2 separate regions of the Homo sapiens genome follow, and region 2 is linked to region 1. Evidence: fine-mapped expression QTL. Tissue or cell type: whole blood. Region 1 holds a variant in brackets; the other region holds the start of a gene. All regions are shown on one strand. Distances are between the middles of the regions.

Region 1 (8,181 bases):
TCCAGGTCTGCTTAAAAAAATCTTCAATGCTTAGATACAGTTATTTACTCATTGATCACTTATGGAGTTTCCAGGAAAAATAATCAGTATGCTAAGAATGATTTTAGGATTATGTTTCAGTTGGAAAGGAAATTAGCAATAAACTTTATGTTACTGTTAGCCTTCACAAAATCCCGCCCTTTGTCATTGTCACTTTTGATCATTATCCACTTGTCACACCATGAAGAGATGATTGCTCATAAAGAGTTCAGTTGGTGACTTCTGATATGTATACCATACACACATGGTCTGTGTCCTATGGTAGGTTCCCTCTTGCCCAGTGGTAAACTGCTGGCTGCCTGCTTGTCCAGTCATTCCAATAAGGACACCGACTTAGGGAATGGCCAACAGCAAGTTGGAAGGAACCTGGGTCCCTTCATGATCACGTGGAACAGAGCCACCTTCCAACCTAGATGGCTCATTATGGAACCGCTATCAGCAAAGAAAAATCCTCCATCTTCTTTAAGACACTGTATATTGGGCAAAGGGAGGTGGCAGGTGTCTCATAGCTACAATAGCTTAACTTTACTAAGTAACTAACCTAACTAATACACAGTTCATCTTCATTTGTGGACTGGGAATAAAAATACACAATGTGCTTTTAGGAAGAAGAATTATATAATTGCCAAGGGAAGAGATGAATAATTTTTCACTCCATTTCATTTCTCATGATTTACCCTTGTTACAGAGATAGAACCTATACCCCTCACAGCTGATAACTTTACACCCTAAGGGGATAGCAGTGGTGGGGCAGTGGCTACCAGGTTGCAGTCTCGCCGGTAAGGCTTTGAGGCCTATGGCAGATGCTCATCCATTTATCTTTCCCTAACAGTGTGGCTCCCTTCACTAGTTGGGCCTCAAACTTGTTTGAGGAATCATGTGGCTCACCACACAATGGAGGCTCAGGATGGGCAAAGACTGGGCATCTGGTCATTCCCATAGATGTGATACCAGGGGCCAATGTCAAAGGCATTTCCTACCTTAACCACCTGCTTGATGCCATTAATGGTGCTGTTCATGAGGGACTTCAGCATGTTGGCATCATTCAGAGAGTCTGCGTAGCGCACACACATGAACAGGATATGAGCCGGCAGCCCGGGGATCATGTTCACCACCACGCCACGGGGCTTCAAGTCTGAAGCAGAGAGAGCCAATGAGGATTACAGCTGACAGGTCAGCTCTTCTCCTAAGGAACTTGTGACTAGGGGCAGGGGCTTGTTTGCTTTTCTGTGCTTGACACAGTGCCTGAATGTATATGGATTTATTTCCTCTTTGAGGAATTCCATCTGGCTCCTTTCTTGGCACAAGATACACAGGTGTCACTTGTTCCTCTTCTTGTTTACAAAGGACTTTCTCTTTCTTAAAAGGTTGAATAAGAGACAGAATCTTTATTTTTCCCTGGTGTGGAAACCCTGGATTTCAGACCCCCATTGTAAGAAAGAAACTCCATTCCATGCACCCCTACTCCAAGCGCTTTGATGAGGATGGCGTACAGTGTCCACAGTCACATGAAGCTGCCTTGAATAGGGAAAGCAGGCACACCCAGTGCAGCAGAGGATGCCTGGCTGGCCTTGAGGAGAACAGAATGGTGGAAACGCTCAGTGGGGATGAAGGGGAGAGAGAAATCTTACAAAAAAAGTTAAGATAAGCAAACAAGGATGTCCCCTGGCTGCAGGAAGACAGAAGAACAAAGAAGAGGCTCACACTGCATGACACCAGTGATGAGGGGAAAGAAAAGGGTAGAGGTGCTCATATGAGCCAAGGGGGTCACTCGCAGAAGAGGAAGGAAGGCTACACGTTGGCTTTCTGTTTTGAGATCTTGGGGCCAGCTGACAGGGAGGCAGATTTTTCTCCCTATGCCAGAAAACCACGTGGAAGGTCACAGTGAAGACAGTGCAGTAAGATTGGTTCTATGACCACCAACTCTTGAGCATGCACATGGGACATTCCTGTAACTGAGGCATGGCTGGGAAGCCCCATCACATTGCCCGCAGAGAAATTTCTCAGAAGTCAAATGGAGCACAGAGCCACAATTGCTTCCATGATGGCTCCTGTGCTGAGACACAAAAATGAGGTGATGTTTCTCTTCTACCCTGGTCCTACAATTTGGAAAAGGTCAGGGCAGTGGTTCTCAACTGAGGACAGTTTTGGCCCCCACAGGACATTCGGCAATACCTGGAGATATCTTTTATTGTCATCACTAGGGGTTGCTGCTGCCTTCTAGTGAGTAGAAGTCAAGGATGCTGCTCCATCCTTTGTTACTCCCCATTCACAGAGTTAACAGGTCAACAGTGCTGAGGTTGAGAAACTCTGGGCTGGGGGAAGAAGCAGTGGAAGAAAAAGTAGAAAAAGGACCACCCCTGCCCAGGACTTTGGCACTGACTGATATGCAAGTTCTCAAAGAGAAAGCAAAAATCCAGAGTTCCAGGTTTCACTACCAAGAATGAGGTTCTGAATGAGCTTGGCCTCGTCTTCTCTCTTGTATTGCAGCATTCCAAGGTACTCCTTGGGTCCTGAGGACGAGTGCACATCATTGGCTGTAGACAGAGGCAAACAATCAGCTAAATACACAAAAGCAGCTTTCACAGGTCTCACAATGTGACTACTCTCCTACCCCATTCTGGCTGGTTTGCACGTAAATGTCTGTGGCTTTCAGATACATTAAAACTGTACTGTATTGTATCCTGAAGAATTTCTCCAAGTAGTGATTCCTCTTTATGAGTACATCAGTGAGTACAGCTGCTGCTGAAAAGGCCCAATTATCCTTTGAAGAGCCTTATGAGTGCCTGATATGTATCCAGCACATGGTAACAGGAAAGAAATCCAAGATGTTGCCTTGTCTTCAAGATGCCAATGCTACTGTGAAAGAAGACTTGTGAAACATTTGGTGTGCAAAATACCAATGTGCATGATCCTTACTGAGACAGCTGTATTAGTTTCCTGTGGCTGCTGTAAAGTTATCACAAACATAGAGGCTTAAAACAACACAAATGTTTAATCATACAGCTCTGGAGGTCAGAAGTCTGAAAGGTGAGCCAGGGTGGTGAATGATGGTTCATTCATTCATCCCAGCAGTGGGGATGCAGCGGGGGCTGGGAAGCACAGACCTGGGCCCTGCTCTCATGGGGCAGACTGCCATTTGTCATTTATTACTGAAGGAAAGGGATCCTCAGTTTGCTTGTGGACATTTCAAATTTGAGGTGAGAGTTGGATAAGTAAGAATAAAGCTGCTCTTCAAAGAGATGAATATAGAAAAAGAAACAAGATACAGCCTTGGCAGTAAGGCTGGGAGGAAGGGGAAAAGGTAATAAAGAATGAAAGAGTGAGAAATGTGAGCAGGAGCTGAACACAGAAAAGTTCAGTGACAGAAGCAGAAGGAGGGAAGAAGGGAGGAGGGTCCCTTTCACAGAGGCTCACGAGGATGCTTTATGTGTGCCATGCAGTCCATGTTCAGGATGTCTGCTTCTTAGCTCTCTACTTTTCTAATAGAAATTTGGATACTTACTGATCCTACATATGTAACAGGGAGAGAAGGTGAATTTCAAAGCAGTAAATTGAAAAATTGTTCACAATTTCATTTTTTAAAAAAGGGAGCTAACAGAGGAAGAGGTTAATGTGTTAATTATAGGATGTCTCTTGCGAGTACATGAATGTATCTGGTATCATCTGAGTGGGAGGGAGCTGTCTTCCTGACCCAAAGGATCCTTTCGTTAGCCCAGCACTAGGTCACAAACCTCACCACTTGAGAATCATTCCTTTGGGTTTCATAAGCTTTGGACCAGAAAGAAAATAAACACTTGAGCGCATGTTAGCCTTAGCTCAAAAGAATAAGAAAACAAGTATTGTTTCTTACCTTTTCCAATTGTCTTGCTTAGTGTCTTGACTTGATCTTGTAGCTTTTTAATCACTCTGTCTTTCATGTCTAATTCTTCTTCAAGATCCTACAGCAATAAAAAGAAACCAGGATTTAGCTTAGAAGCACTTTAATCTATTTTTTTTTTTTTTGGGTAACAGCTTTATTGACATACAATTTGCATACCGTACAACTCACCCATTTAAAGTGTAAACTCAAAGGTTTTTTAGTGTAGTCAGAGTTGTGCTACAATCATCATTATTTAATTCCAGAACATTTTATTACTCCAAAAATAAAACTGACCTTTAGTGTCACTCTCTAGTTTCTCATTACCTTCCAGCACCTGGCAACCACTCATCTACTTTCTGTCTCTATGGATTTGCCTATTCTGGACATCTCATATAAATAAATTCATAGAATAGGTTTTTTGTGTGTGTGTCTGGCTTCTTTCACTTAGCATAAGGTTTTCAAAATTCATCCATGTCGTAGCATGTATCAGCATTTCATATATTCGTATGGCTGAATAATATCCTATTGTATGCATATACTACATTTATCTTGCTCTTATTACATAGGAGTGCCCATCATAGAGAATTTAAAAATATGAATGTGGGAAAATGGGCTTTCTAGATTTCAGAAGCTGGAGCTAGAGAAATGTTCAGAGATTTGGGCCTGGTTTTGCCTTTCTTTCCTGATAAGTAGGTGGCCTTGCCCATGCTGAATTTGGCTCAAGAACCAGAAGAGTCCTTGGATACCTAGAAATATTTCCTATAAAGGACATAGTGTTTAAGTTCTTCCACATCTGAGCATTTGACACATATAGAATTCAGGCTTCTCTGACCCAGAAAGACCCACCATGCAGGGTCACTGCAGCTGTGTGCCCTCTAGGGACTCTTGGGGCCGAGGGACATTGTGCTGTTTCTACTCTGTGC[G/A]GCCACCTCTCTCCCTGCCACCATTCTGTGTCCCTGGCTAGACATGTTAGGAACTCTATTGACCTTAGAAGTGGCGGTGTCAGTACAGCTTCCTCCCTCCAATTCAAGCCCATCTTATAATATATCTAATAAAATGGGTCACCCATCAACCCATAACCCAGAAAAAAACCACTCTTCACATTTTGATTTCATTCCTTTTTTCCCAATATGGTAAATGTACATTTTATAAAATTGGGATCATATTACATGCAAAATTTCAAATCCTACATTTTTCTCTAGTTATACTGCAGACGTTTTCCCATGTCATTGATAATATACTCAAACCATCATTTTAACAGCCAAGTCATATTATATCATACAACAATTTAACCTTTGCTCTATTGTTAGGTATGCATTTCTCTCCTTTGGGTTGCTTTTTTTCTCTATGATTAATAACACTAAGATGATCACTCTGAACAAAAATCTCGTCCACATGTTCAAGTATTTACTTAGGATAGAACCTTACAAGTTGTGTTACTGAGTCAAAGGGAATGTACTTTCCAAAGGTTCATGATCCATACCTTCAAATAAGCCCTCAAGAAAGTTTATACCAATTTATATTCCCAGCAACCATGTATGACAGTGCCCATTTCAAGATGTTCTCTCCAGCAGCATAAGATCTCTATTAATTATTATTATTATTAGTAGTAGTATTTTTAGAGACAGGATTTTGCTCTGTCATCCAGGCTGGAGTGCAGTAGTGTGATCATAGCTCACTGCAGCCTCAATCTCCTGGGCTCAAGCAGTCCTCTTGCCTCAGCCTCCTGAGTAGCCAGAGCTACAGGCATGCACCACTATATATATATTTTTAAAGTTTTCCTTGTAGAGATGGGGTCTCACTACGTTGCCCTGGCTGGTTGAACTCCTGGCCTCAAGTCATACTTCTGCCATGACATCTTAAAGTGCTGGGATTACAGGCATGAGCCACTGTGCCAGGCCCAGGTCTCTGTTAATTTGACAGGCAAAAATAGTACCTAGTTTTGATTTTGAATTTCTTTGATAAATAGTGAAATGATTACTAAAAGTTTTTTTTTAATCTCTTAATAAGAATTCAGTGACAAAAGAGTCTGGAAAAAAAAAAGAAATTTCTTTGACTCAAAGCATCACATAGTGGTTTGAACAGTGTCACCTTGAAATTCATGTCCAACCCAAACTCCAGAATGTGCCTTTATATGGAAATAGGGTCTTTGCAGCTGTGGTAAGCTAAGGGTCAGTATGAGAGGTGGCTACTACAATTTAGGGTGGGCTGTAAATCCAATGCAGGTGTCCTTATAACAGATGGAAAAGAACACAGAGACAGGGAGAAGGCCAGGTGCAGAGAGGCAGAGGCTGGAGTTACACTGTTCCAAACCAAGGAATGCCTGGAGCCCTCTAGAAGCTGGGAGAGGCAAGGAAGGGTTTTCCTTAGAGACTTCGGAGGAGTGTGCCCTGCTGACACCTTGACTTCAGACTTCTGACCTCCATAATTGAGAGAACACATTTCTGTTGTTTTAAAGCACCTGGTTTGTGGTCATTTGTTACAGCAGCCCTGGCAAACTAATACAGATCAGGTCTCATTTGTGGGTAGAATCCGCCGGCTAATGTATAGAGATGATACTCTTGTTGTGTGTCCGTCTGCTTCTATGTAACAGTGAGGCTACTCCGGGTTCAGAAAGAGCTATTGAAATGAGCATGTCAGGCCTGCCAGCTCCTTAGCTCAGCGCACCTGTGGGGAGCAGAGCCAGACACTTGGAGGAGCTCCAGAAGAGGGCGCCAGGACCGAGCTGTGCTCCAGGGCACCAGGAACGAACTCATAAATCCGTCACAATGCACAGGGACAGTCAGAGTAAAGGATCACATGGGATGACATGCGCAGCACACACATGACCCACCCATGTAGCTTCTCCCTGACCGCTGACTCCATTGAGATCCCAGGGGCCCACAGGAGGCAAGGCAAGGCAAGGCAGCCTCACACATGGACAACAGGCGGTTGCTTCTCTGTTGTAACACGAGGATTCCAGTCTCTGAGAAAGTTGTATCCACCTCAGAAAAGGCAGCTGTCATGTAGGTGTCACTGATTGGAATTTGTTACTTCCTATTAAATGTCAAACTCCTGGAATTTCTCTTTTTGGATGTAACCACTCTTCAAAGTTAAACCCTGACACTCAAAATATGTTTTTCCTCTATCAAGGTTTTCCTGTGAGATTGGAAATGGGGGCCCTGTCAGCAGGGAGAAGGGTACGTGGGCATGTCCACACTGACCCACTGGACTCGTCAGCCCTCCTGCGTTACCCTCTTGGAAGCTGGAAGCTCTCAGGTTTCGAAGGGGCCCGAGAGGGTCCCAGCTCCTAGGAAAGTGGCCTGTCACTTCAGCACTTCTCAGTCTTCTGGGTTCCACACAGCATCACAATTTCAAAATAATTGCTGGGAATTGATGTAAGGTTACCCGATTTCATTTTGGTAAGGGCATTTAAAACTCAGAAAAGACCTTAAACACTTTTAAAAAGTTTTTAAGCCTTCCATCGACATCATGATCATTTCATAGAAGAACATTTTGACTCTAAAAATTGTAGGAAGGCCATACCCCCAGAAGAAAGCATGGGCACTTATATGGGGTGAGTTTTGCTGGGTAAAGCACTCACACGTAGGCCTTGCTATCCTCAGTGTGTTCCAGAGCACAGTGACTCCATCCTGGGTGGTGCCGTGCACTGATAGTGCTGGGGAACTACGGCCTGCACCTCTCTGTCTCTCCTCCTTCACCCTCCCCAGGCGGGCCTGTAAGTCCCCAAGGCCTTCCCAAAGCCAACCTCAGAGACCACCTGTCTTTTGGGATAAGAAAACAGACTGCTCTGATGGAAGGACTTTTGGTCTATAGATGTTAATCATATGCTTTAGGTGGCATGTCCCCCCTTTCAGCAACATCTGCACACAGACAGTCTTTATCACCAAGTTAGAAGACTTCTCACCCTGTTTTCCAAAGTGAGCCGGGATGCTTCCTGCCGGAAGTTACACTTGACTTCACTTTCAGTTTCAAATTGTTTCTTCAAGTGGTCACTGGCCTCCTGCATTTCTTGAATCTTATCAATCAGCTTCTCCTTCTCTTTGGTATGTATTTCATTTTGGGCTTCCAAGGCCCTGAGAAAGGGAGGGAGGAATGGCTGGTATCAGTATGACGGTCATGGAGAAGTCACTCACTGTCATAGCAAGTGCTGATATTTCCAAAGATGGAAGAACACCTTGGCCAATTTCTGTGTAAAGCAAATAGTATTCGAATAGGGGTGTCCTTCCAGGGGAAAGAAAAGAGACCAGGACTGGCTGGGATAGAAAACTGTCCATGGA
Region 2 (8,181 bases), 35 kb before region 1:
GATTGTGCCACTGGACTCTAGCCTGGGCGACAGAGTGAGACTCCGTCTCAAAAAACAAACAAACAAACAAACAAAAAACGGCCAGGCGCAGTGGGTCACACCTGTAATCCCAGCACTTTGGGAGGCCAAGGTGGACGGATCACAAGGTCAGGAGTTCGAGACCAGCCTGGTTAACACAGTGAAACTCTGTCTCTACTAAAAATACAAAAATTAGCCAGGTGTGATGGCATGTGCCTGTAATCCCAGCTACTCAGGAGGCTGAGGCAGGAGAACTGCTTGAACCCAGGAGGTGGAGGTTGTAGCGAGCTGAGATCATGCCATTGCACTCCAGCCTGGGCAACAGAGCCAGACTCCATCTCAAAAAAAAACAAAACAAAACAAACAAACAAACAAAAACATCTGTTAACTAAGGGGCTGCCAGTCACCATAAGAGATACAGGAAAGTGCATGCTGCCAGCCCCTGCTCTGGGGAGTGAACAGATTCAGTTTATGGTCCTCCCCAGCCTCACCAGACCCTTCCCACCTTCCCCCAGGCTCTCAGCCACTTGCTCAATGGGGAGCCCTGCAAAGAAAGCTGCATCATTCCTAAACTGAATCCTGGCCCAATCACTAACCAGCTGCATGACCCTGAAGGAATTATTCGACTTTGCTAAGCCTGCTCGCTCATCGCACAGATGGGGATGATACCACTTTCCTTCATACAGGGAAAAATGACAGCACTGTTGTTTGCACCTGGCAGGGCTCTAGCTTATACTTCCACAAGTAAAACTCATCAGCATCCTTTCCTCCCTTTCCCACCTGAGTGCCAAGGGACAAACACACTTAGGAAGGAGCTGGGCGAGTCTGGGCTGGGGTAAGGTAAGAGCGGCTGCAGGGTCAACTATGGGACCAAGACAAGCTCAGAAATCATCTCTCGCTCTTCCACCTTCAGCTGTAACTTCCATTAGGAGCTGGCAAGTGGCACGCAAGGTAGGCTCTCTGATAAGAGGGAAAGAGACATTTGTCAAGAACTCTTACCCCAGGTCACTTACCTCTCACACTTCATTTCCCTCCCTCAAGCTGTCTTGTTCTGCCACAAAACATGGCAGGCAGAGTGAGCCCAGTAAAGCAATCAGATCCATCCTCTCTCTCAAAACCCTCCAAGGGTTTCCCAACTCACTGGGAGTAAGAGCCCAAATCTTCACTGCACCCATGGGGTCCTGCATGAGCTCCCAGCATAACCTGCAGCTGGACTCTGCCCTGCATACTCCCCTCCAGACACACCTGCCTCCTCACTCTTCCTCAGATACATCAGATACACCAAACACACCCCCTCCTGGGGCCTCTGCCTAGCTCCTCCTTTTTTTTTTTTTTTTTTTTTTTTGAGACGGAGTCTCGCTCTGTCGCCCAGGCTGGAGTGCAGTGGCAAGATCTCGGCTCACTGCAACCTCCAACTCCCTGGTTTAAGCTATTCTCCTGCCTCAGCCTCCCAAGTAGCTGAGATTACAGGCACCTGCCACCATGCCCAACTAATTTTTGTATTTTTAGTAGAGACGGGGTTTCACCATGTTGGCCAGGATGGTCTCAATCTCCTGACCTCATGATCCACCCGCCTTGGCCTCCCAAAGTGCTGGGATTACAGGCGTGAGCCACCCTGTCGGTCCGAGACCCTGTCTCTTAAAAATAAAGATGAATAAAGAAAAGAATGGCTGAGTGCGGTGGCTCACACCTGTAATCCCAGTACTTTTGGAGGCTCAGGCGGGCAGATCACTTGAGGTCAGGAGTTCGAGACCAGCCTGGCCAACATGGTGAAGCCTACTAAAAATACAAAAATTACTTGGGTGTGGTGGCACATGCCTATAGTCCCAGCTACTTGGGAGGCTGAGGCAGGAGAAACACTTGAACCTGGGAGGTGGAGGTTGCAGTAAGCCAAGACTGTGCCATTGTACTCCAGCCTGGGTGACAGAGGGAGACTCCGTGTCAAAAAAAAAAAAAAAAGAAAAGAAAAGTAGAGAAATGAGAGAACCTGGCTGGGAGATCAGGAGACATGTCAAAGGGGAAGAGGTCAATACAGTGATAAGAACCTTCAAGAAGCAAAGGCTTTATGCGGGGTAGAAGAGAAGTGGTCTGGAAGCTGCAGGGGAATCAAGAGGGACACAACCACATGACTTCTGGTCTTTCCAGCTCACAAATTCTGACATATGCAGGTAGGGATAGACCCTTCCACTGTGGGTCTAAAATCTGGCCCTAGCTTTTGAGGGCACCACACTCTTGGCAGGACAAAAAAAAGTTTCTTCTTTTGGATTGACTACATTTGCCCCCTGAGGTTCCCTTTGAAAAGCTGCATCTCTGCTCTCTGTCTTAAGGCAACTTACAAATTCACAGAAAACCTGAAAATATCCAGGCATGCAGCCTGCACTATTGAATAAGTGAGTTTCTGGAGAACGCCCTCTGCATGAAGCTCAAAACGGGTTTGGCGAAAATAATCTGAAGTGAGCCTGAGCTGGCACTCTGATTGCCTGGGGGGAATCCGGGTCCCAACACTTAGCAGGGGACCTTCGGTAAGTCCTTTAATTCTTTGTGCCTCAGTTTCCTCATCTGTCAAATGGAGAAATTAGATGACCTATGAATACTTTTCACCATGTTGGCCAGGCTGGTCTCAAACTGGGAGAAGGATTTCTGGGAAAACTTTTGCTTTGCTTTCTTGATAGGGAGCAAAGAGAGATTGGTGTCCATATTCCCCCTTCTTCCTGCCTTGGATACAGAAGTGATGTTTGGAGCTGTGGCAATCATATTATAATCATGGGGCAAATGCCACTGCTCTAAGGTGTGGAGAAGAAAGGCAGAAGGAGCCTGGGTCCCTTGGTGGGGGGTGCATGGTGCAGCTGAACAACAGCAGGTGATCATCCACCTTTGCTCTTGTTATGTAAGAAAAGTAACTCTCAATTTGCATAACTACATTATTTGGGGTTTACAGTTAGTGATTGCTGGACAGGATTTCTAAGCTTAGAGTGCCTCCTATTTAAAGAAGACCCCTAGGAAAGCACAGCACACGCTAGATCCAGGTCATCCACTTCTCTTAAGTGATCTTCAGAGATCAAAAGGTAAAGGCCCTAGCACGAACCCCATTTTTCCATTCCACATAGAATGTAAAGGGTGGCATCGATTAGGAATGGCAGGAGAACAACGTCAAGGTGTGCAGGAGGGCACCGTGGGAGGTGCTCAGCAAAGGGGAGATGCCACCCTCAGAGCTCAAAAGTGAGCAGATACAACCACTTCCCCAAGCCTGGCCCCCAGCCCAAGCTCTGCTGAGGAGGAGCCCTCTGACAAAGTAAAGGAACGCTGTTTTGGCCAAGAGCCGCTGAACCTGGCTATTTAATCGCTCACTCATAAAAATCACAGAGCCAGTTCTGAATTACGGTGGTGGTGGTGAAGAATGCAAGTTTAAGATCGCTATGGCTTTTTTATGCCAATCCACCACATCGATCCAAAAGCTTTTTAAACAGCCTTAAACGAACTGAACGGTTGAATTTAGTGAGCTCCTCCGTTTCCCTTCTCTCTCCGTCATCCAGCTCCCCGCCCCAAGGATAGGGGAGAGGTTGGAAAAATGAGCTTTGAAATTGCAGTCTCATAAAAGCAAAACTGAGAAAAGATACAACAGTGATGGAGAAAGCCAGACGGGCATTAAAAAACAAAACAGGAGTCTCTCCTAGGCCGCGCCTACACGGGCTCGCCGCGCTCGCTCGTCACCACCGACACCCCACCCCCTGCCCTCCGCATGGGAGGGGCAAGAACGCGATCCGTTCGCAGCTTCCAGGCAGGTGATGAGGATAGCTAGTCCCGCGGTCCTCCGCTAGCTGGCGGCGGGGGTCGGCCAGGTGCCCGGACCCTCCGAGGGCCCCACCGCCGCGCGTCCCGGGGATCGGGACCGCTACCCGCGCCTCACCTGCGCGCCCGGGCCCCAGGGCCCTGCTCCCGGGCGGTGGCGCGGGCCTGGCTCCCGTCGCAGCCACGACCGCCCCCACCGCCCCCGCCGTCCCCGCCCGGGAAGTGGCGAGCCGGTCCGGCTTGCCCCGCCCGCCTCCCGGCCCGCACTCACGCTCCACATCGTGCAGCTTGGCTCGCTCCTCCTCCAGCTTGCCCTTGAGGCTCTCGGCCTCGCTCTTCAGCGACGCCAGCGTCTCGTTCTCGTGCAGCCCCTCGGTTGCCATCTTCGCGCGGGGACGCAGCGGAGAGGGAAGCGGAGAGCGGGAATGCGCTGAGCCGCGGCGGGCGCCGCTCCAGCAGCCGTCCCCGGCCCCGAGCACCGCCCCGCGGCCCCGCCCTCCGCGATGACGCCAGCAGCTGCGGGCCCGGCTGCTGCGCCTGAGCCCCAAGACCCCGCACCTGGGCGCGCGCTCTGGCGCAGTGCCTGGTGCGATGTCCGCGTCAGCCTCTCTCCTCCGGGAGAGGCAGGGAGTGTGACGCCCATTTTACCAGCGGGCAAACTGTGGCTTAGGGATGCTGGGTGATTTGCCCGAGGACGCACACAGAGGGAAGGGCCAAGCCGGGATTCCAACTCGGGACTCCCCGCTTCTGGGGAGACCGGTGAGGCCCCCGCGACATGGCCCTCCCATCCCCAAGCCTCTCGTGCAGATCTCCGCTCTGTGGGACTTGATTGCGGGCTGCGGGCCCGTGGCTCCTGCAGGCAGAGAGAGGACGGGAGAGGAGACGGCTACGAGGCTTGGCCGCAGGTAGCTACGGTGCTCCCCCAACAAGGAACCGGAAACCCTCTTCGTTTGTTGATCTAAATATACAAAAATAAAACTAGTTGCTGGGTTCTCAGACGGAGTCTCTGCGGCATTAGGAGGCCCACCCTTATTTTCTCTTTTCTTCACGCAGGAATCAGGTCCCTGGCCTGGGGGCGGCAAAAGGAGATGGCGGTGGGTCAAGTGGGCGCGCAGGCTCAGACCTGGGGCTTCTGAGCCCACGCCCAGGCATCTCGGACCTCTCACTTCTGAGGCCACCTCCTGCCCTTTAGAATGAAGGGCTGGCACAGTTCTGCCAGGATGCACGTTTAGCGACTTCTGTCAGACTGAAGCATCCCCTCTCCGCAAGCGCCTGAAGTGTGAGAGGCACTGTTCTAAGTGCTTTAATTTGCACTTGTTTAATCCTCACAGGAGTCAACTTGAATGGGCACACTTATTCCCACTTTACAGAAGAGGAAACTGGGGCACAGAAAGACTGAGTAATTGCTCAGGGGGCATGCTCCAAGAAAGAGGGAGAGACAGGATTTGGACCCAGACAGGCTGGCTCCCTAGTGCTCTGGACTTTGGTGTGGATGATCCAACTCAAGCCTTCTCCTTTTTCCCTCCTATGTGATCTTGCATGCGTTTGTGCAGAGAATGAGAAGGCAGATCAAAGTTACAGATGCTGCGAGAACATCGCCAAGCAGAATCTTGGGTGCTGTCCCCACCTCTCTGTACCTGCTCCCTCCCAGAGAAGCCAGCCTCCACTTGCTGTCCCGGGCCTTCTCTATCTGAGAAAAGTTGAAGGTACTCGATGTTAATCTGTACATAGTTGTTTTGCAGGTTAGAGTCTGGGATCCTCCGTTTCCTTATCTGGAAAAGCTTCTTCATAGGATCTGCTTCATAGGATTGTTATGAGAATTAAGTAAGATGGTGTGGGCCGGGTGCGGTGGTTCACACCTGTAATCCCAACACTTCGGGAGGCCAAGGTGGGTGTATCACCTGAGGTCAGGAGTTCGAAACCAGCCTGGCCAACATGATGAAACCCTCTCTCTACTAAAAATACAAAAATTAGTCGGGCGTGGTGGTACGTGCCTGTAACCTCAGCTACTCAGGAGGCTGAGGCACGAGAATCGCTTGAACCCTGGAATCAGAGGTTGCAGTGAGCCGAGATCGTGCCACTGCACTCCAGCCTGGGCAACAGAGCAAGACTCAAAAAAAACAAAAACAAAAACAAAAACAAAACAAAAAAAGGTAAGATAGTGTGGGTGAAGACTTTAGCAGACTTCTCCGTACATAGCAGATGCTTATTCACTGCTAGTTCTCTTTTCCGTTCCCATCCGTATAATAATAGGTTTACTTGTCGCTGTTCCTTAGTATTTAGATATTTAGCATAGTACTTGCATATGGTAGGTGCTCAGTTAATGCTAGTTTATTAAATGGATGTATAAAAAATATATAAAATATATAAATCTGTATAAACTATGTTAAAAATATAAACATATAACAAACATGTTTATAAATGAATAAATATATAAATACAATTATTAAGTATAAGATAAGAATATATAAAAGCAAAAATATTACACCTGTTTGAGAGTTTGTAAAGCAAAAGGTTAAGAGCACAGGCTCTATCTAGATCTGACTGCCTGGGGGCAAATCCTGGCTCTGCTCTGTGGCCTGAGGGATTTACTTGTGGTGCCTCAGGCTCCTCATCTGTGAATGGGGGACAACACCTCCTTCAGACTCTGTATGGCATTCGGAGAGAGCAGTGCGTGGCACACAGTATGCATCTGTTATTATTACTGAGGCTGCCTGATACGCTTGAGCAGTTCACATGAGGTAATTTAAATGAGACACTGGGTCATGGGGGATTCTTCTCACAAGGGCCATCTCAGGGGGCCCAGGCAAGGCAGCCTCATCTCATCACCTCCTTAGGCTGGCTCTGTTTGGACCGTTGCAGGATGTGTGTGTGGTTCAAGGTCCTCCTGGCTGTGAAGACCTGAGGCACGTGGTACTTCTCACTGGTGTGTGCCCTCTTCTGGGGGTTCTTTGTGTAAAATAAACCTCGAACAGCCTCCAACCTGGAGAGTCAACTATCTAGAGATGAGGCCATCAGACTTTTAATGGTTAGGCAGTTTTCCAAGTACTTTCTTGTATTTTGGTGTTAACTCCCACTGAGGAAGCTGGATATCAGAAAAGTTGAGGTCAGCTACATTCCACAGTGGTTGAGATAAAGGGTCACTCCTATTCACAAAAAGGGCCCAATGGGGACTGTGTCTACATAATCCCAAACAGTTGGATGAAAGGCCAGCTGTCAGTCACTGGATGTCTCTTCAGCTGAATGATGCTGTCTGAATATTTGGGAACCCCCAAGTAGAGAGTAGAGATTGTATTAAAGTAATTGTGGTTTTTGCCATTGCTTTCAATTGAAAGCAATGAGAATTGTTATGAGAATTAAGTAAGATTGTGTGGGCCGGGCGCAGTGGTTCACACCTGTAATCCCAACACTTTGGGAGGCCAAGGTGAGTGTATCACCTGAGGTCAGGAGTTCAAAACCAGCCTGGCCAACATGGTGAAACCCTCTCTCTACTAAAAATACAAAAATTAGCCAGGCATAGTGGTTTGTGCCTGTAACCTCAGCTACTCAGGAGGCTGAGGCACGAGAATCACTTGAACCCTGGAGTCAGAGGTTGCAGTGAGCCGAGATCGTGCCACTGCTTCAATTGAAAGCAATGGCAAAAACCGCAATTACTTTTGCCCCAACCTAATAGTAGCGCTAGCTGGCAACTATTCCCTAGAAAAGTATCTCCAGGCATGGCCCCTGTGCTAGGGAGAACCTGTGTGCCACAGAGGACTCAAAATCTGGGATTCTTGGGCTTATTCCACCTGCAGAGGAAGTTGTTTAAAAAGCAGAAGAGTTAGATTAATAAATAATGGGGGGGGGGTAAGGCCCCCAGAAAGCAGGTTTATTTTTAAGAACTAAATGTCCTCAGTTCTACAATTTGCAGGGCCAAGTTAGAACGTAGACTGTAGAAATATACTACAGGTAGAAGCCCACTACACCTAGGCTGAAGACATATCCAAATTGCTATGCTGTATCAAAGCCTTTTTATGCCACCCTGGGCTGTTTACTTGCTATTTGCTTTAAGGGAATAATTTTTAATGTAATCATGGTCAGGGGTTACAGTGGAATCAGGAGGATAAAAAGTGCCTTTTCTTTTTCAGTTAGATAAAATGTAAAAGTCATCTTTCCTCTCTTTGGTTGTATTATGGATTTTGTTGTTGTTTTTTTAAATGTGTGGGGATTTCCTACTGGGCTTTTCAGGAGGAGTGCTTTACCACTTTTCACCAAGTGGGGGCTCTGCTCAGCTGCACTATTGAGCGCAGCTTTGCAAATTCTCAGAGATAGGACTAATTCTTAGGGCTTCAGTGATGCTGTGGGCATTTTTGCTGCAAGATCTGAAGCCTGTGC

What was found. PIP is the estimated chance that this variant, and not a neighbour inherited with it, causes the effect.
Region 2: it holds the start of CERNA1, and the variant in region 1 is fine-mapped to the expression of CERNA1 in whole blood (TOPMed, PIP above 0.99).

Annotation. Positions count from the first base shown.
Region 1 is chr15:52,210,711-52,218,891 of GRCh38, forward strand. It overlaps MYO5C (myosin VC), which reads right to left. Exons shown (of 41, transcript NM_018728.4): 32 at 7,809-7,977; 33 at 3,893-3,980; 34 at 2,478-2,576; 35 at 1,020-1,174. Among named protein-coding and RNA genes, the nearest start is that of GNB5, 23 kb to the left of the region's middle. The variant G/A (reference allele first, on the strand shown) is at 4,825.
Region 2 is chr15:52,175,690-52,183,870 of GRCh38, forward strand. CERNA1 (competing endogenous lncRNA 1 for miR-4707-5p and miR-4767) reads left to right here and starts at 4,337. Exons shown (of 3, transcript NR_102751.1): 1 at 4,337-4,712; 2 at 5,361-5,513. It overlaps GNB5 (G protein subunit beta 5), which reads right to left. Exons shown (of 13, transcript NM_016194.4): 3 at 4,079-4,190. RefSeq lists a silencer at 3,748-4,407 and enhancers at 4,453-4,954, 4,778-4,867.